2 separate regions of the Homo sapiens genome follow, and region 2 is linked to region 1. A link means that fine-mapping ties the variant in region 1 to the expression of a gene that starts in the linked region. Tissue or cell type: CD4 T cells. Region 1 holds a variant in brackets; the other region holds the start of a gene. All regions are shown on one strand. Distances are from middle to middle.

The links. PIP is the estimated chance that this variant, and not a neighbour inherited with it, causes the effect.
Region 2: it holds the start of PDPR, and the variant in region 1 is fine-mapped to the expression of PDPR in CD4 T cells (BLUEPRINT, PIP 0.95). The same link has a PIP of 0.9 or more in monocytes and neutrophils.

Annotation. Positions count from the first base shown.
Region 1 is chr16:70,152,746-70,162,875 of GRCh38, forward strand. PDPR (pyruvate dehydrogenase phosphatase regulatory subunit) reads left to right here. Exons shown (of 19, transcript NM_017990.5): 18 at 646-828; 19 at 3,730-9,792. The coding sequence ends at 4,134. LOC400541 (a long non-coding RNA gene) reads right to left here. Exons shown (of 3, transcript NR_126007.1): 2 at 6,060-6,144; 3 at 3,595-3,759. Among named protein-coding and RNA genes, the nearest start is that of CLEC18C, 16 kb to the right of the region's middle. The variant T/G (reference allele first, on the strand shown) is at 4,381.
Region 2 is chr16:70,108,809-70,118,938 of GRCh38, forward strand. PDPR (pyruvate dehydrogenase phosphatase regulatory subunit) reads left to right here and starts at 5,524. Exons shown (of 19, transcript NM_017990.5): 1 at 5,524-5,632; 2 at 6,013-6,122. RefSeq lists enhancers at 5,488-5,537, 6,058-7,000.

The DNA of each region.
Region 1 (10,130 bases):
CAGACAGGGATTGAATATTTGCTTTCAGTTTGGAAAACCTTCTGTTCACTGATCTGATAACGTACATGTTTCTGAAACCAAGAAAAGAGCAGCTTGAGAGCCTGAATGCTGTGGGACATGAGCAGGCGAGCCCTGCCTTCCTGGCTCCCCCGCCGTCATCCGATGTGTGCACACGTCTCGAGTAACGTGTGAGAGCTGGGCCTCACAGCTTGGGCCAGTACGTGAGGGAGTAACAGTGGTTGGGAAATTGGAGCAAAAGAACAAAGCCAGAATCAGATGAAGACCATGGAGGGTTGGTGGGCTGTTTTAGAAATGATGATGAGATTGGCCATTTACCAAATGGTGAGAGAGCTTCTATAAATTATTATTTAAGAATTGCTGTAAGCTAGAATCACCACACAAGACATTTTAGAGAGGTGAAAAGACATGGATCCTGTTGTCATGGAGCTTAAGTCCAGGCTGGGGTGACCCCAGCTCATCACTCCTGGGCTGTGCCCTGAGCGTGTCAAGGATGAGACATCCTGGGAGTTTTATACGCCTCCTCTCTTGTCCATGTTAATAGTGTGAGCCATCAGCGCTTCCAGACATGCTCCATGCTTAATTCTGAAGGTCTGCTGCTTATGAACTTTCTGTCTCTTCCTATAGTACGCCCTGCATGTATACAATGAAGTGATGAGTGTTGGCCAGAAATACGGAATCCGGAATGCTGGGTATTACGCTCTTCGCAGTCTCCGAATTGAGAAGTTTTTTGCCTTCTGGGGTCAGGATATAAATAACCTCACCACGCCCCTGGAATGTGGACGAGAGTCTCGGGTGAAATTAGAGAAGGTACTGTGTTTACCCAGACTCCACTTTCACTCAGCATCCCGAGTAGTGAATCTGCACTAGACTAGGAAGAAGAACTGATGTGACAGGAAAAGGGGGAAAAGATTGAGGCCTTGATGTTAGCATCAGGTAAATGAGGACAAGAGTGCCCTGAGAATGAAAACTTTATAGGATAAAATATCTTCAAATGAAAACATAATAATGGTGGCTCACGCCTGAATCCCAGCACTTTGGGAGGCTGAGGCGGGTGGATCACCTGAGGTCAGGAGTTCGAGACCAGCCTGGCCAACATGGCAAAACCCGTCTCTACTAAAAATACAAAAAGTAGGCCGGGCACGGTGGCTCACACCTGTAATCCCAACACTTTGGGAGGCCAAGGCGGGCGGATCACAAGTTCAGGAGATCGAGATCATCCTAGCTAACACAGTGAAACCCCGTCTCTACTAAAAATACAAAAAATTAGCCGGGTGTGGTTGCGGGCGCCTATAGTCAGGAGAATGGCGTGAACCCAGGAGGCAGAGGTTGCAGTGAGCCGAGATCACGCCACTGCACTCCAGCCTGGGCGACAGAGCGAGACTCCGTCTCAAAAAAAAAAAAATTTACAAAAAGTAGCTGGGCGTGGTGGCCAGCACCTGTAGTTCCAGCTACTCGGGAGGCTGAGGCAGGAGAATCACTTGAACCTAACAGGCAGAGGTTGCAGTGAGCCAAAATCGCACCACTGCACTCCAGCCTGTGTGACAGGGCAAGACTCCGTCTCAGAAAAAAGAAAACATAGTAAATAGATGACACTTGGTCAGGTGCGGTGGCTCACAACTGTAATCCTAGCACTTTGGGAGGCCAAGGCAGGAGGATCACTTGAGCTCAGCCTGGGCAATACAGCAAGACCTTGTCTCTGAATTACAATTGAAAAACAAACAAAAAAACCCACTTATTTCTAGTGTTCTGCTGTCTAAAAGACTGAGTGCTTTCTGGGAAGCTATTCTGAGTTAATTATGGTGATGCATTAACATGCCACGAATATTTGTACAAACTAGTCGTCCTATAGTCAGCTGCCTAATTTTTGTGGTTTTTTTCTTTTGTTTTTGATTTTGAGGTGGGGTCTCATTCTGTCACCCAGGTTGGAGTGCAGTGGCGCGATGTTGGCTCACTGCAATGCCCTCTCATGCTCAAGTGATCCTCCCACTTCAGCCTCCCAAGTGGCTGGGACCACAGATGCACAACCATGCCCAGCTAATTTTTTTGTATTTTGGTAAAGACAGAGTTTCACCACATTGGCCAGGGTGGTCTCGAACTCCTGAGCTCAGGTGATCCGCCCTCCTCGGCCTCCCAGAGTGCTGGGATTACAGGCGTGAGACAGCACACCCGGCCTAATTTTTTTGGTTTTTTTGTTTTGGGCGGATCACCTGAGTTCACAAGTTCGAGACCAGCCCGGCCAACATGGTGAAACCCCGTATCTGCTAAAAATATAAAAATTAGCTGGGCATGGTGGCAGGCACCTGTAATCCCAGCTACTCGGTAGGCTGAGGCAGGAGAATTGCCTGAACCTGGGAGGCAGAGGTTGCAGTGAGCCGAGATCATACCATTGTACTCCCACCTGGGTGACAGAGCAAGGCTCCATCTCCAAAAAAAAAAAAGGTAATAACCCATTTTGGAAAATATAAAGAAGGAAATTAAAATCACCCATATTTTGTCTATTTAATGGTAGTAACTATTTTTTTTTTCTTTCTTGAGACGGAGTTTCGTTCTTGTTGTCCAGGCTGGAGTGCAGTGGCGCGATCTCAGCTCACTGCAATCTCTGCCTCCTGGCTTCAAGCGATTCTCCTGCCTCAGTCTCCCGAGTAGCTGTAAGCCATCCAGCTAATTTTGTATTTTTTGTCTTTACCAAAATACAAAAAATTAGGTGGGTGTGGTGGCGCATCTGTGGGCCCAGCTACTTGGGAGGCTGAAGTGGGAGAATCACTTGAGCATGAGAAGGCATTTTTGTATTTTTTCTTTTTTTAGTAGAGATGGGGTTTCTCCAGGTTGGTCAGGCTGGTCTCGAACTCCTGACCTCAGGAGATCCCCCCGCCTTAGCCTCCCAAAGTGCTGGGATTACAGGCGTGAGCCACCGTGCCTGGCCATAATCACCGTTAATAGTTTATTCTAGTCTTATTTGTTGTACATATGTGTATATATGTGTGTATGCATTGAATATAGATGTGCATGGTCTTGTTGGGATTATATAAAAAAGTCTTTTTTTTTTTTTTTTTGAGACAGAGTTTTGCTGTGTCAACCGAGGCTGGACTGCAGTGGTGCAATCTTGGCTCACTGCAGCCTCTGCCACCCAGGTTCAAACGATTTTCCTGTCTCAGTCTCCCTAGAATTATAGGCACACTCCACCAGAATCTTGGCTCACTGCAGCCTCTGCCTCCCAGGTTCAAGTGATTTTCCTGTCTCAGCCTCCCAAGTAGCTAGAACTATAGGCACACTCCACCACACCCAGCTTATTTTTGTATTTTTAGTAGAGATGAGGTTTGCCTCATCTCTGTTCAAGGCGTGAGCCACCACGACTGGCCAATATAAAAACATTTTTCTAAAGTACTGGACTGATAAGGTATTTTATTAAGTGAGTGAGTTTTCTTCCTAAACGTTTTTGTTCTATCTGGTCTTGTGACTTTATGTTTATAAAATAGGAAACAAAATGCGTACCTCTGTTGTTACAAAAATTACCGCGGCGTCTTTTATATTTCACATGCAGTTTTTCACATGGTAGAAATCGCACAGTTTCCCAAAAGCTGGCAGGGTTGTGGGAGGAGGCGGCTGTGCCCCATTGCAGTGACACCAGGGGACCCTTCCCACGGTGCTGCTCTCTGTGCCGAGGGTCTGAGTGTCGCTGGATGACTCGGCGTTTCCTTTCTTTCTTAGGGCATGGATTTCATTGGTCGCGACGCCCTCCTGCAGCAGAAGCAGAATGGAGTGTATAAACGCCTCACCATGTTCATCCTGGACGACCATGATTCAGACCTAGACCTTTGGCCTTGGTGGGGAGAGCCCATTTACCGGAATGGGCAGTATGTTGGCAAGACCACCAGCAGTGCCTACAGCTACAGCCTGGAGCGCCACGTTTGCCTGGGCTTTGTGCACAATTTTTCTGAGGACACGGGGGAAGAGCAAGTGGTGACAGCAGATTTCATCAACCGGGGAGAGTATGAGATTGACATCGCGGGATACCGCTTCCAGGCCAAGGCCAAGCTCTACCCTGTCGCCTCCCTCTTCACCCAGAAGCGCCGAAAGGATGACATGGAGCTGAGTGACTTACATGGGAAGTGATGCCACCAGGGCAGCCTCACCTCCTCCCCATCATCTTGTCCTAGAGTGGGCGTCACCTTGGAGCTTCTCTTCCTTCCGCCTCTGTTCCTCTTCTGGAGCCTTTGCCTCCCATCTCTTATCTCCTTGATATAATTTTGAACTTGACCTACTTTAAACTTTTTTGCTCTGCAGCCTTCCTTGCCCTTCCACCTCCTCCTCCTAATATTCACTCTGGGCTCTTCTTCCCTTCCCACCCCTCACTCAGCT[T/G]CTCGTGGTGGCAGGAGGTATGTCTGACAGGACAGAAGCAAGCTCCACTGTGGACATGAGTGATGGTGACAGCTGCTTTCAAATTCTGCATCTCAAGGCAGGGCAAGCCGGGGTGGTGCAGGTCTCAGGGCACGAGTCCCTCTCCCTTGGGTTCCATTTTCTTGGAGCAGCCTATTAGTTCTGGTGGGGTTGCCGTGTGTCGGATGCAGCCCTGAGGGGCAGCTCGTGCCTGCAGCCCGGCAGCTCGTTCTCCTGTTCTGCTGTGCTGTGGGCTGGCACTCGATACCTCTGGCAAGAGGATGATTATCTACCTCACTGATAAGAGGCATCGCATGGACGTTCTCTGGTCTGTAGTGGAGACAAGCAGTTAACCTAGCACCATCCTCATCCTCCCTGCAGAAGCCATTAGCAGACCTTTGGGCCAGGGCAGCCTCCCTATAATTTTCTTCATCTCTTGCTAATCTCTATAATAAGGTTGCTTTTTCTTTCTTAGTTGAGTAAACAAGTAAGCCACAGTGTTTGAAAGGGAAAAACCATATTGCCTTGTGTGTTGCTTTTCCCAGTCAAAAGGGTCTGACCTTAGAAAGTCCCCACCAGTGATGCTGAGTGTTCTGCTATGGAAACAATGCTGCTTTTCTCTCAGCTGTCCAAAGTTCAGCCGTTCCTCCTTCCCCTTCTCCCAGTGCGTTTGACTTTGTCAGGTCAGCCTCACTTGTCCCTTTCACAGTTGGCCCATAAAGTCATGTTTCTCTCCCTTTAGAATAGGGAGGGGAAGGGATCAGGTGTGTTGTCCTGGGCCTTTCAACCTTGCGGGCTGTGCTGAGTTCCAGAGAGCTGCCGGAATTCCAGGTTTGACTCTCCAGCACAGAGCAGAGCTACACAGAGGTGACCCACGTTAGTCCACTGAGAGTTCTGAGTCCAAAGGGTGTACGTTGCATAAGGCTAGAGACCGCTTTTCCTCCTTTCCCCCCAGGCTCTTTGTTTCCCTCCACCCACCCTTCCATATCCTCTGGAGCAGGAGACAATGTGGGTGCCCAGAAGTGCCCTGCGCTTTCAGGCAGTGTCTCTGTTTTCCCAAGGTGAAACTTAGATATCATGGACTGTTGTCCAGCCTCAATGCTTCATTTTCCCCTTGCATATCAACTGCCCTAATCTGACTTTTTTTAAGTGCAAATAAACTGCTATAAGACATTTTGGTTAGTAAAACTCTAGCCTTTGGCGTGTTGGTATCTTGGAAGCATTAGCTCTGATAGGTCTATAAGTGTATTAAGGGACATCCTTCCATTTCATTAGAGCAGCTTAAAATGCTCAGGTGTCTGCCTTCTCTGGTGTTTCTTTGGGATCTCTGTTTACCCACTTACGCTGGCTCCTTCTAGACATTTCTTGCCACTTCCCCAACTAGACCACTCCTAGTGATTACTGACTTTAGTGCCTAAACCTTTTTGGAAGGTTCTGGTTGGCTTGTTAGAGGAGCATATGATTAGAATTCTGTTTGGGGGTCTAGTTGTCTTGGAGCAAGTATGTACTTAACTAGCCGAGAGATGCTGCCTCTAGGCAGAGAGGAGGAGAGGTGTTGCCGGCTGGAGGGCCAACCAGTGAACACCAGCTGTGAAGGCCTTGGGAGAGGAGGAACAGGCCCTTGGGCAGATGCAGGCATTACCAGCAGGGAGCAGACTTACCTCCGAAGATGGAGACAGGTGACTGAGAGCTGCAGGCCTCCTCTGCTCTTCCAAACACGTAGCATTTGCACCCCTCCAAAGCCATCTTTGTAAAGGAAAACGTATTTGTAATTGAATCCAGAAGAATTTAGTTACACATAGACATAACTCTTCAACCTTAACTATGGCAATACATTTGTGCTTTAACTGTTACATAGCAGTATCACCACTTACCAGGATCCAAATCGAAATAATAAAAGCTGTCTCCATAGTTTAAAATCGAATAGTGCCATCATCACAGTATATTAGTCAAATAGAAGCTTCATCAGAAATGTATCCCACATAGAGTTTTAAGACTTGGATTCTCTTCTGCCCTTGTTAATCTCCAACTAATTACTACAGATTGACACGTTTTTAATTAGCTGTCCTTTGTAAGAAGTCAGGAAATCTGATGCTGTGTCCAAAATTATGCACTGTTTGTTGAAGTAGAACCAGAAATCCTGACCTCCTGTTAAATGACATCAGTTTCCCCCTCTGAGCAACAGACTGCTTGTCTTGCTAGGAGAGGAGGATGGGGGGCTGAGCACTCAGGCTGTCCATTGAAACCCCTTGTCCATGAATAGGGTCATACTCCTAAGACTGATGGGGTGTTGATCTTCTAGGACATCACTTGTTTATTCAGTGCCCCAAACACAGATTTCTCTTCTAGCACTTTAGAGTTGATCCTTGAAGTCTCTCCTGGTTCATTCAAATACAAGCTGTGTGAGTCTGGTGGTTTTCTGTGATTGGTCTAATGTGAGCTCTTTGAACAGACAGATCTGACAGTGAATGACTCTCCCCTGCTTCTGGCATAACTGCTTTGCCTCTGTCTAGTGTCCAAGCATCTTAGCTGTTCAAGAGGAGAGGGCAGCATAACTTCCTGACCACCGGTGTCAGATATCAGAGCATTCTGGACTCCTGAGAGGCAGTGGCCTCTTGAGTGAACAGGGGAGGCCAGTAGATGCCCCAGATCCAGAGCCGTGGCTGCAAATCCAGCAGGAATAAGGAGGGACAACCACAGCCTCCTCATCCATGTGTCATTTCCAAGGGTTTGCCTTGTGTCTCAGCTCATTCTGGGCAGCACGTTTGTCTTCTGTCCCTAGAGATTTGAAGGATTTTGGACTCTTGTGAATGGGTGACTGGACTTGGCTTTACAGAGTTGGGTGCTTTTTTCTCTCTGCAATTACCTGTCATAGCATTTTGTGCTCACCACGAAGGATGGTCTCTGCCTTCTCTTGTCGGTGTATGCCATCTGAACCTAGGAACACAAAGTATATTGGCCTCAAACGGAGACCCAGGGTTGCCAGTTTTCCGTGGGCCTTCCCCTCCCTTGAAATGTCTTTAATTACCTCCCCTTCATCGTCAGGCCACGTGTGACTTCTGTTCTTAGCACTGCCAGGGTCATTGACTTCCATCTAAGCTTGCATCAGGAAGATGTTCCTTCTGTGATCATTGGTACTGAAGCCAGAAAAGCTCTCATTCAGGAACTCTGAAGAGCAAAAAGGGACAAACACTAACTGCTGAGCTGGGCCATTTGATCTCCTTTCACCTTGCATTGCTGTCACAGCACCTTGTATGATGGCAGGACAGGCTCCAGCAGAGAGAACTGCACAGTGACCACTGTATTTTTCACGCTCTTCCAGGGATCCCTGTCCCCCGACATTGAAGAGATCTCATTCAGGCCAGAGACACAGAGACCACATAGCCCAGTGATTAAACCCCGGTTTCACTCTGGCCCCAGGAGTGGAGCCTGGCCACTCCTGTTTGGTTCTCACTGGGAGGCCCACTGGCCTTGGATCATCTCCTCATGCACACCCGGAGTTTTACCTGCTTGCTTGCTTTCCTGGACTGCTGTTTGCAAGAAAGTAACTAAAACATGAAAAGTAAACCTCCAGCTTCCACAGTATATTACCTGCCGTTGCATGCATTTGAAAGTTAGCCTCCTCCCTTGCCACCGTCTTGGTGGCAGTAGCGATGCAAGAATGATGGGAGCTTTCCGAGAGCGTTCAGTGTTTCACTGAAGACAGGACCCATAGCCTTCATTTCTGGCTCTGTGTCTCCTCTGGCATATGGACACATTTCCTGGCATTTGCCTGAGTCTACACCACTTTTTGAGAACCTGAAATAGAAGGGAATCTTCTGTGGCCCACAGTCTCCATATTGGCACTAGAAGACTGGCCTGGCGGAGGAATTTGCGTTGGCTTGCTTTCAGGGGTTAGCTACAAGATTCAGCTTTATATCTCTGTTGCTTCTTGGCCAGTGTAGTCAATAAGGGTCTTCTTTAACATCTAAGATAGAGGTTTGGTTGGCCGGGCGTGGTCGCTTACTCCTGTAATCCCAGCACTTTGGGAGGCCCAGTGAGGTGGGAGAATTGCTTGAACCCAGGAGGCAGAGGTTGCAGTGAGCTGAGATTGCACCACTGCACTCCAGCCTGGGTAACAGAGTGAGACTCTTGTCTCAAAAAAAAAAAAAAAAAAATCTAAGATAGAGGTTTGGTCAACAGTGCTTAATAATAAATAAGAACCTCCTGCCATTCTAATTTTCCTGCTGCACCCCATCCCCCACACACCCCTCACGAACATTGATATAAGCAGTATTAACACAGTATAAAGAATGTTCACCTTGCATATGTCATTTCAGGCACATGGATTCAGGAGAAGCACAGTTGAGTGGAAGAAATGGTAGACTTGTGAGGCTTGCCCCAGGCCTTGTGTACACGCAATAAGTGGTGAGCCATGGGTCTCTCCGTCAGCGCCTCCCTCCCCGCCACCACTTCAGGCCAACAATTTAAGGTGCTGAGTTGTAAGGCTCCTCCATTGTCAGTACAGGGCTCGCCTTTGTAGCCCTGATCACTACCAGTACACTTTTCAAGACAACTGAGTATTTTTGTATGCCTTTGCCTTCCCTTTGTCCATGAAACATGAAGAGTTGTTTATGGTTCTTGACTTCTCTGAGCAGAGTGTCTGCATCTCTTGGAGAGTTACACATTTCTTCATGAGCCATTTTTCTCATTCTTAGATGCACCTGTTTTTATCCTTTGCAGACCATCTTCTGCCTTCTTATTTTCCTGTCTGTCAAAGACAGAAATTACAGGAGATAGGGAGGGTTTTTTAGCATCTCTTTCAAAAGATGTATGTCAGAATTTCCTTTGCACACCAAGAACTGGAGCTTAGAGCCCCACTATTCTCTAAGCCAGGTTCTAGTGCCTTACACTCCAGAATGTCAGATGGTGGGTGCAGATTGGAAGAAAGAGAAAAGTTCATCTCGGTGTGTGGGTTCCCATCCGCCCCACATAGCCTCTCCTTCTTCGGAACAATGGGCGTGGGGTAGAAAGCTCTTTCAGTGAAGGGTGTTCTAGCAGCTCAGTTAACACTTTACTCTCCAGTCAACACTTGGGACATATAAAAATGCCATTGTAACTACTGTAGAGTCCTGTGACTCATCGTTTGTGTTTGTCAATTTGCAGTTCAGCTTAGCCCTTCCCTGTTCCTGTGTAGTTACAATCTGGCCCTGAAGACATCCGAGGCACTTCAGTAAGTGGGATCTTTTCTAGAGATCCTGGGTGACTTTGGGTGCACAGGGTGACCGAGCATTTCTGCCCCTGTGAATGTGGCACTAACACTGTGCACTGTCTCCACCAAGCAAGGTTTCCACTGAGTTTCTTCTCATGTTACTGGGTTTGTAAATGAATAAACACATTTTAACTACTCTTGCACGGCTGCTTGTGAAATGTTCTTCATCTGTAGTGACTTAAATGTGTTTGCCACCACAAAGCATAAACAGCGTGCAGAGGAGAGTGTGTACCTCCCTGTGTGTACCAGTGTGAGGGAGGATTTGGGGACGGGGGTAGAGAAGATGTAGGTGTTTATCTTACCCTCCCTGCAGCGCTGGAGTGGCTGGGGGTAAAAGCTTCCCGCCTCCTGAAATTCCGACCGGCCTTCTGCCTACAGCTGACCTCAGGAGGAACCTGCCACCTGATGTTCCACACGGGCACGTGTGCACTCAGGTTTGTGTGGAAAGCAAGGGGGGTCGTGTTCTCACCCTGTGGAAACA
Region 2 (10,130 bases), 44 kb before region 1:
CCAGGCTCAAGCGATTCTCCTCCTTCAGCCTCCTGAGCTGGGATTACAGGCACATGCCACCATGCCCGGCTAATTTTTGTATTTTTAGTAGAGATGGGGTTTCTCCATGTTGGCCAGGTTGGTCTTGAACTCCTAACCTCAAGTGATCCACCCGCCTTGGCCTCCCAAAATGCTGGAATTACTGGTTTCTTTTTGAGACAGGGTTTCACTCTGCCGCCCAGGGTGGAGTGCAGTGATGCGATCTCAGCTCACTGCAACCTCCTGAGGTTCTTCTAGCGATTCTCCTGCCTCAGCCTCTCGAGTAGCTGGGATTACAGGCACCCGCCACCATTCCTGGGTAATTTTTATATTTTTAGTAGAGACGGGGTTTTGCCATGTTGGCCAGGCTGGTCTTGAACTATTGACCTCAGGTGATCCTCCCTCCTTGGCCTCCCAAAGTGCTGAGATTACACGCGTGAGCCACCTCGCCCGGCCTGTGAAGTCCTTAAGATGGAGATTTACAAAGGAAAATGAAAGCCAGAGGTGAGGTTTTGGTTTAAGTGAGTTGCAGAGGCAACAGTAACTAAAGGGTCAGGATTGTAGAGAGGAGAGCTGACAGCCTGCAGCCACTTGCATTTGCCAACTCTGGCCAGAGGCTGAGGATCCAGGTTTTTTATGTTTTTATAGTCTCACCAGCCGGAGTGACAAAATTTGGAGGCTTGAATGGCCTCGAATAGATGGCTAGGTCTCAAGCCATCTGGTGAAATCTGAATACACAAGATGCAAACCTGAAACACTAAGCTTAGACCTCTCTAAAGCAGAGCGGAATTTTGCAGAGTCACAGTGCTGAGTAAAAAAATTACCCAGGAATGGTGGCGGGTGCCTGTAATCCCAGCTACTCGAGAGGCTGCGGCACGAGAATCGCTAGAACTGAGGAGACAGAGGCTGCAGTGAGCTCAAATCGCTTCACCGCAGTGAGCTGAGATCGCGTCACTGCAGTGAGCTGAGATTGCGTCACTGCATTCCAGCCTGGGCGGCAGAGTGAAACCCTGTCTCAAAAAAAAAAAAGAAAGAAAGAAATCAGTAATTCCAGCACTTTGGGAGGCCAAGGTGGGTGGATCACTTGAGGTTAGGAGTTCAAGACCAACCTGGCCAACATGGAGAAACCCCATCTCTGCTAAAAATACAAAAATTAGCCAGGCATGGTGGCGTGTGCCTGTAATCCCAGCTCAGGAGGCTGAAGAAGGAGAATCGCTTGAGCCTGGGAGGCAGAGGTTGCAATGAGCTGAGTAGACAGTTTTCAAGATCTCTCAAAAGGAGGGAACCTGGGGTATACTACGGGATTTCAGTTGAAAGACTTGGAGAGCTAGGCCCTGGGAACAGAGGCAAGTGAAGTAGACAGAACCCTATCAACACTGCATCCCATAGACCTTGAGCTAATAAACACAGAAGGAATTACAGAATTAGAAAGTTACCATTTGATAACCACCATAGTAAAATCGTCTCAAGCAAGTCGAGTCAGTGGATAATAAAACTAGTGAGGCTGGGTGTGGTGGCTTATGCCTCTAATCCCAGCACTTTGGGAGGCCAAGGCAGGCGGATCACTTGAGGTCAGGAGTTCAAGACCAGCCTGGCCAACATGGTGAAACCCCATCTCTACTAAAAATACAAAAAAATTAGCCGGGCATAGTGGTGGGCGCCTGTAGCCCCAGCTACTCGGGAGGCTGAGGCAGGAGAATGGCGTGAACCCAGGAGACGGAGCTTGCAGCGAGCCGAGATGGTGCCACTGCACTCCAGCCTGGGTGACTGAGCGAGACTCCGTCTCAAAAAAAAAAAAAAGAGAGAGAAGTTCCAGGCCGGGTGTAGTGGCTCACGCCTGTAATCCCAACACTCTGGGAGGCCGAGGCGAGCGGATCACAAGGTCAGGAGATCGAGACCATCCTGGCCAACATAGTGAAACCCCATCTCTATTAAAAATACAAAATTTAGCTGGGTGTGGTGGCACACGCCTGTAATCCCAGCTGCTCAGGAGGCAGAGGCAGGAGAATCCCTTGAACCAGGGAGTTGGAGGTTGCAGTGAGCCGAGATCGCACCACAGCAGTCTAGCCTGGCGACACAGTAAGACTCCGTCTCAAAAAAAAAAAAAAAAAAGAAGTTCCTGGCTGGGCGCAGTGGATCAAGAGATCGAGACCATCCTGGCCAACATGGTGAAACCCCGTCTCTACTAAAAATACAAAAATTAGCTGGGCATGGTGGCATGTGCCTGTAGTCCCAGCTGCTCAGGAGGCTGATGCAGGAGAATGGCGTGAACCCGGGAGGCAGAGCTTGCAGTGAGCTGAGATCGCGCCACTGTACTCCAGCCTGGGTGACAAAGCAAGACTCCGTCTCACAAAAAAAAAAAAAAAAAAAAAAAAAAAAAGAGTACTGATTGCTACTCGCAACATTCTTCTCTTCCCATGGTGTGAATGAGAACATCCCTGCTTTCCACACAAACACAGGCTCTCAAGCACACGAGAAGCATGCCAGGTGTCAGGTCCTTTCTGTGAAGTCGGTTGTAGGCAGATGTCCAGTCTACTGATGGGGACAAGAACTTCAGAGGGAGGAGGGAGGCCTTCCCCACAGCCATGCCGGTGCTGCAGGGAGGTAAGATAAACGCCTGCATCTTAGCGACCTCAGATCCAAATTCATTCTTACACTGTGGTAACATAGGTATGTCAAATGTTTGTCTGTACACTGTTTATCCTGTGTGGTAGCAAATACATTTACCAAGTCACTGCAGATGAAGATTTCACAAGAGGACTTGACAAGCGTAATTAAAACGTCTGTTTAGGGCAAGACATGGTGGCTCATGCCTCTAATCCCAGCACATTGGGAGGCCAAGGCAGGTGGATCTCTTGAGGTCAGGAGTTTAATGCCAGCCTCAGCAACATAGTGAAACCCCACCTCTACCAAAAAATACAAAAGTTAGCTGGGGACGGTGGCACGCGCCTGAGGTCTCAGCTATTCGGGAGGCTGAGGTGGGAGAATCGCTAGAGCCCAGGAAGTTAAGACTGCAGTGAGCCGTGATTGCACCACTGTGCTCCAGCCTGGGTGACAGGGTGAGAGCTAATCTCAAAAAATAAAAATAGGCTGGACGCGGTGGCTCACGCCTGTAATTCCAGCACTTTGGGAGGCCTAGGTGGGCAGATCACGAGGTCAGGAGTTTGAGACCAGCCTGGCCAACATAGCGAAACCCTGTCTCTAATAAAAATACAAAAATTAGCCCAGCGTGGTGGCGCACGCCTGTACAGTCCCAGCTACTGGGGAGGCTGAGGTAGGAGAATCCCCTGAACCTGGGAGGCAGAGGTTGCAGTGAACCGAGACCACACCATTGCACTCCAGCCTGGGCAACAGAGTGAGCCTCCATCTAAAAAATAATAATAAAATAAAAACACTCAATCCCCTAGAAAAAATAGTGCATCAGTGGTTATGAGAACCTACTAAGGACAAGACCCATCTTTGACAATGAAAGGGGCCTTAGGACTTACTTCCCTTTTTTTTTTTTTTTTGAGACAGTCTCGCTCTGTCGCCTAGGCTAGAGTGCAGTGACACAATCTTGGCTCACTGCAACCTCCGCCTCCTGGGTTTAAGCAATTCTCCTGTCCCAGCCTCCCAAAGTAGCTGGGATTACAGGCATGTGCCACCACGCCCAGCTAATTTTTGTATTTTTTAGTAGAGATGGGGTTTCACCATATTGATCAGGCTGGTCTCGAACTTCTGACCTCACGTGATCCAACTGCCTTGGCCTCCCAAAGTGCTGGCATTACAGGCATGAGCCACCGCACCCAGCCTGACTTAGCATTTTGGAGTGGAGGCCGATCATGGTGATGGAGAAGGAAATCAGGGACAGATCTACACCATTTGTTTGCTATTTACTGCACGTAAACAGAATGAAATCAACACATTAAGTATTTCACTTGATTTCATCCACCATCTCCTGCAGACAACCAGGTTTCTCCCAAATTCATGTGCCTGGAAATGGCTTGAACCAAATGGTTCATGAGGAAAACCTGTGATATTTTTCATGAAATCGCCACATCTGGGCATCAGGAAAGCCTTCCCCGAGAATGTCTCAAATTGGTCAGCCGTTTTCTCTTTTTTTAGACAGGTAGGTGTCCCCAAGCATTCAATCCTAGCTAAAATATGGAAGTATTTATCTAGCACAGGAGCCTATGGCATAGTTTCAGTCCACTGTCTGGCAGACCTCATCTGGGCTGTCTTTGTGTGATTTGACTGGCCAGTAAATGGGGTATAAACTATGTAGGCTGTGGCCTGGCCTTGTGACAGAGGGGTCCCTGGAACTTGACTGCCACTCCCTAAGAGCAGAAACCGCCTCTTTCTTGTACATTGCTGGATCCCATCATCCTGCACAGTGCCTGGCTACAGGTGGCCAGCAATAAAACACAAGATTGGGGCAGGCACAGTGGCTCACGCCTGTAATCCCAGGACTTTGGGAGGCTGAGATGGAAGGATCACTTGAGGCCAGGAGTTCAGGCCCAGCCTAGGCAACATAGTGAGCCTATCTCTACAAAAAAAAAATTTTTTTTAAATTAATAAAACACAAGATTGGTTTGTGTGGTGAGACAGTATTGAATCCAACAAACGGGAACTGGATAGTGTGGCCCAAGATGCAATGGTGGCTGCAGCATGAGACCCTTATGCATATAATATTCAGTGGAAGAGGTGCCAGGCACTGTTCTGGGTGCTGAGAATAAAGCTATGCATAAGACTAAGGTTCTGTCGACAGAGATCGTGTCACACCAGTGGAAAAGACAGTCATCAAACTTATATCCTTGAGTCAGTGATGAGTTCTAGAAGGAAAGAAAAGGCTGATGTGACAGTGAGGAAGGGATGAGTGGAGACTTCTCTGAGACTTCAGTGATTCCTCTTCCTCTGAGCTGAGCCAAGCTGAGAAGCTGAGAAGAGTAAGATAGGGCCGGGAACTCAGGTCCGTTAGTCCGTCCTCCGAGGTGGGGCGGGCCAGCAGAATGGATTTCCGATCTACTCTGTGAGAGCCTCGCCCAAGAAAGCCCAGAGCCACTTCCAAGATCCGCGCTCCCACGGCGATGAGAAGCGTTTTCCCCCGGGACTGCTTGGCTTAGGACTGGGGACCCACTGGCTTTGGAGTAAGCCCTGGCACGGGCCTCGAGGGAAGAAAGAACTCCCGCGCTCCCCACACTCCACAGGGCCTGCGATCATCTCAGATGTTCCGGTTCCACGTGCAGAAACCCCGCCGGTCCGAGGCCCCGGTTCTAAAACGGCCCTAAGAGTCAAGGCTTCCACAGCTCGCCTCTGAGGGTGGCAAAGAGGCCGCGGGGGCGGTGCCTCGCGAGACCCAAACAAGCCCACGTGGCAGGGGCGGGGCTCCGCGAAGGCGTCACGGCGCGCTCGTGCGCTGCTGAGGTCACGCGCCGGCAGTACCCTTGCCCGGGGGCCGTAAAGCGCGGAAGGTCGCGGTCTCGGCTTCCCCGGAACTTTTTGCTCGCTTCGCCCCGCCCCCTTCCCATCCCCGAACCCCGCTTTCCGGCCCGCGGCGACCCCAGGCAACTGTTGTGGCTGCCGCATTGCTCCCGCCGGGCTGTAGCTGAGCGCGGAGCCCGTGGGGACCGGTGAGGTAAGGAGATAGCTTCGGGGCAACTCTGGCCTCCCCGTCCGCGCGGGCCTAAGCGCCCCGGGACCCCTGGGTTCCCCTCTTTCTCCTTTGGTTTCGCCCGGGGGTGGTCCCCGCTAGCTCACGCTTCCAGTGGGTTCCGCCTGGCCTCTCGCGAAGTCGCGTCCGGGCGCCAGTACTCGTCCCCGTAAGGTTGTCCGCTCGTGCCTTGGCTTGTGTTCTCGGCTACCCCTGGGCGTGCGCACCGCTCCTCCAGGAGCCTGCACTTCAGCCCCGATGCCAGGGCGGCCGGGGTGACCTCGGGCTCCCCCGTCTCGGGCTTGCACACCCCTGCGGCGCAGAGCCAACTCCAGCTTGTCTAGCCCGGTCCTCCATCCCTGCAGATGGAACTGTTTTCCCGCGTTGAGACGTGCGGTCCGCTTGTGCTTTTAGAACTAAAGACTGCTGCAGAGTCCGGAGGAAGAAGTCACCTAGAAAAATCTGGGACAGGGCAGTAAGCTTCCTTCTTAATGTTTGACCTTTGGGGGCCGATGTGTGATACCTCGGATTTGAATCAAGAATCTCCAAGCCCATTTTCCGCATGCATGTAAACGTGATGTACCGGGATGGGGTCTGGTGGTGGAGGAGGAGCCAGCCTGACGGATAAGCTTTTCCAGTGGCAGGGACTTGTGTTAATTTCTTTTTTCTTTTTTTTTCTTTTTTCCGAGACAGAGTTTCACTCTGTCGCCCAGGCGGGAGTGCAGTGGCGCGATCTCGGCTCACTGCAACCTCTGCCTCCTGGGTTCAAGCAATTCTCCTGCCTCAGCCTCCCAAGTAGCTGGGAATACAGGTGTGCGCCACCACGCCCGGCTAATTTTTGTGTTTTTAGTAGAGACGGGGTTTCACTATGTTGGCCAGGCTGGTCTCGAACTCCTGACCTCGTGATTCTCCCGCCTCAGCCTCCCAAAGTGCTGGGATTACAGGCGTGAGCCACTGCGCTCGGCCAACTTGTGTTAATTTCTTAAACTTGCGTGATCACCTGGTGTACTTGTTGAAAAATACAGCTCCCTGGAGTGGCAGGATCAGAATCTGCCGAGGTGGACCGTGGGAATCTGTCATTTTTAAACAAGTGTCCCAGGTGGTTCTTTTGCTGAGGCAAGTGTGGGAAATGTTGTGTGAACCCACGCTCATCCAGTCTTCCTTGTGACCGGCAGTCCACTGTGCGCAACGCTGCAGCCATACAGAGGGACAACTCGAAGTTAGAACTAGCACCTTGGTCTTGTTGGAATAAGCAGATCTGAGTAGAGCCAGCTGCAGTCTTATGGTTGTTTAGCAGAAGTTATTCTTCTTAGCAGAGAATATTATACGGTCATTTTCCAGAACTGTAAAAACTCTATCATTTGTTTTAAACCAGATGATGTGCTTCATTTCTGTCTTTGACGTCTTCAGTTTCTTCTCCCCTGGCTTTACCTCCTTTGTTATCAGTTTGTGCTTTGGTTTTGCTGCCAACCTTATAGGTTTAGGTTTGGCGGCAAAGGCACTAGACTCTGGTGCCTTCTTTTCCTTCGTTGTCTTAAGCCCTTCTTTTCCTCTGCCCTCATGCCCTCACCACTTCACTCTTTTGAAGGTCATAATGAACACAAGGTCAGAGATCCCTTTTTTGGCGCCAAGCACCCTGGGCTTTTTTGAGATGGAGTCTCACTGTGTCACCCAGGCAGTGGCGCGAATCTGCCCACTGCAGCCTCCATCTCCCTGGTTGAAGCAATTTTCCTGTCTCAGCCTCCTGAGTAGCTGGGACTACAGGTGCAAGCCACGACACCTGGCTAATTTTTCTGTTTTTAGTAGAGACGGGGTTTCACCATGCTGATCAGGCTGGTCTCAAACTCCTGACCTCAAATAATCCACCCACCTTGGCCTCCCAAAGTGCTAGGATTACAGGTGTGAGCCCCTGCGCCTGGCCTTTCTTTGTTTTGTTTTGTTTAAGACAGAGTCTCACTGTGTCACCCAGGCAGGAGTGCAGTAGCATAATCTCGGCTCACTGCAACCTCTGTCTCCCAGGCTCAAGCGATCCTCCTACCTCAGGAGTTCAGGACCAGCCTGGGCAACATAGTGAGCCCCTCTCTACAAAAAAAAAAAAAAAATTAAAAAAATTAATAAAACACAAGATTGGCCTGTGTGGTGAGAGAGTATTGAATCCAACAAACGGGAACTGGTTAGTGAGGCCCAAGATGCAATGGTGGCCGCACCATGAGTACCTGGGACCACAGGTGCGTGCCACCACACCCAGCTAATTTTTTGTATCTTTGGTAGAGACGGGGTTTCACCATGTTTGCCAGGCTGGTCTCCAACTTCCGACCTCAAATGATCTACCCGCCTCGGCCTCCCAAAGTGCTGAGATAACAGGCGTGAGACATGGCGCCCGGCCTAAAGTTTTTTTTTTAATTCCACCTTAAAACTCATCTGTTACTGTGTTTGTTCTGCCACCTTTGCAATTCCCTTTCTCTGTTAGGGGAATGTGCTTAATGGTTCAGTCCTCACAGCTGTCCTTTCCTTACCATCTGCTTTTATTTGAAAGGTAGCGTGGAGTCATGATTAAATAGCCGGCCACTAATGCCAAATTGGCAGGGTTCTGCTACTCAACAGTTTGGTAGGACCTTGGGTGAGTCACTTCCACTTATCTGTGCCTGTTTCCTCAAGTGTAGAATAGAAATGCTAGTATCTACCTCATAAGGTTGTGAGGATTAAATTAGTTATATATATAGGCAGTATCTGGTGCATTGTAACTACTTATAAAAATATTAGCTTTAAAAATTATTTGCCGGTCACAGTGGCTCATGCCTGTAATCCCAGCACTTTGGGAGGCCAAGGCAGGCGGATCACGAGGTCGGGAGATTGAGACCATCCTGGCTAACATGGTGAAACCCCGTCTCTCCTAAAAATTAAAAAAAAAAATTAGCCAGGCATGGTGGTGGGTGCCTGTAGTCCCAGCTACTCAGGAGGCTGAGGCAGGAGAATGGCATCAACCCAGGAGGCAGAGCTTGCAGTGAGCTGAGATCGCACCACTGCACTCCAGCCTGGGCGACAGAGCGAGACTCCATCTCAAAAAAAATAAATAAGATGTCAAAGAGGCTGTGACCTGAGGAGATTACCTGTATTTGGGGGAGAGGTGGCAGGAACCATGCCAGGAGGGAACAGCATGCACAGAACCTGGAGCCGAATAGAACACTCACGCCTCACCTGATATGTTTGACGAATTACAGGTTGTTCAGTCTGGTTTGGTCAGAGTGTGAGGAAAGGAGAAATGAGACCACAGATAAGAACCAGAGTGTGAAGGATCTTGCACTTGATATGAAAAGAGTTTTGCCTTTTTCCTGAGGGCATCAGAAAGTCATTAAGGTGGGTGTGGTGGTTCACGCCTATAATCCCAGCACTTTGGGAGGCCAAGGCCAGTGGATCACCTGAGGTCAGGAGTTCAAGACCAGCCTAATCAACATGGTGAAACCCTGTCTGTACTAAAAATACAAAAAGTAACTGGGCGTGGTGGCGCGTGCTTGTAGTTCCAGCTGTTCAGGAGGCCGAGGCAGGAGAATTGCTTGAACCTGGGATGCAGAGGTTGCAGTGAGCCGAGATCACACCGCTGCACTCCCAGCTGGGCGACAGAGTGAGACTCTGTCTCAAAAAAAAAAAAAAAATTGCTGAGGAAAAGCAGCAAAAAGGGAGGGAAACGTTGCAGGTACATGAAAGAGAGATAGCAGTTGATGGAGCTAGGGTCAAGAGAAGAGAGGAGGAAGTGGGATCCAGGGCCCTTGGGGGAGATTAACTTTCCAGTGGATAAAAGAAGGAAGGAAGAGATGGTTGCAGATGCAAGTGGGTCTATAGGAAGGGTTTCAGGGAATGAGATGAGCCAGGTTATCTGCTTAGAATGAGGGAAGAAAGGAGGTGAAATTGAAGGTTGAGAGAGGAATAGCTGGGCTCTGAACCTGAATACAGACAGAGGTCTGCCTGTGGCTTAACATGTGCTAGCCTAAGCCACCAAGGAGCAGGACAGTTTTCAAGTATAACCGAGTGGTCACGGGTCAGAAGCCAGGAGGTTGACAGTGAGGTCAATGGGACGGGGCTGGCCATTTGGCAGCAGCAGTTCCCCAGGAGAGCTGTGTTGCCATTGGGACAGAGGGTAGAGAGAATGTCAGCAAAGGGGTGGGTGTTTACCTTTGGGAAAGGTATTCTGGAGGGTGCAGTAGAGGGGCTTGAAGGAGAGGAAAGCAAAGAGAGCTTGGGCCACGGGAAATAAATTGGTCACGTGGAGATGAGATTATGGAAAGACTAGCCGGGTAGAGAAGCTTCTGTTTTGAGATGGTGCTTAACAGGGACCAGGGATGAGAGGCATGGTGGCAACCACAAGGTGGCCAAGACAATTTGTCTCCAGTTGGATGGGATGTCTGCCTGGACACAGTCTGTGCTTGCATTGGTTGCAATTCTGAGAGTCATCTCTGATGGATGGACATAGATACCTTGGCCTTGG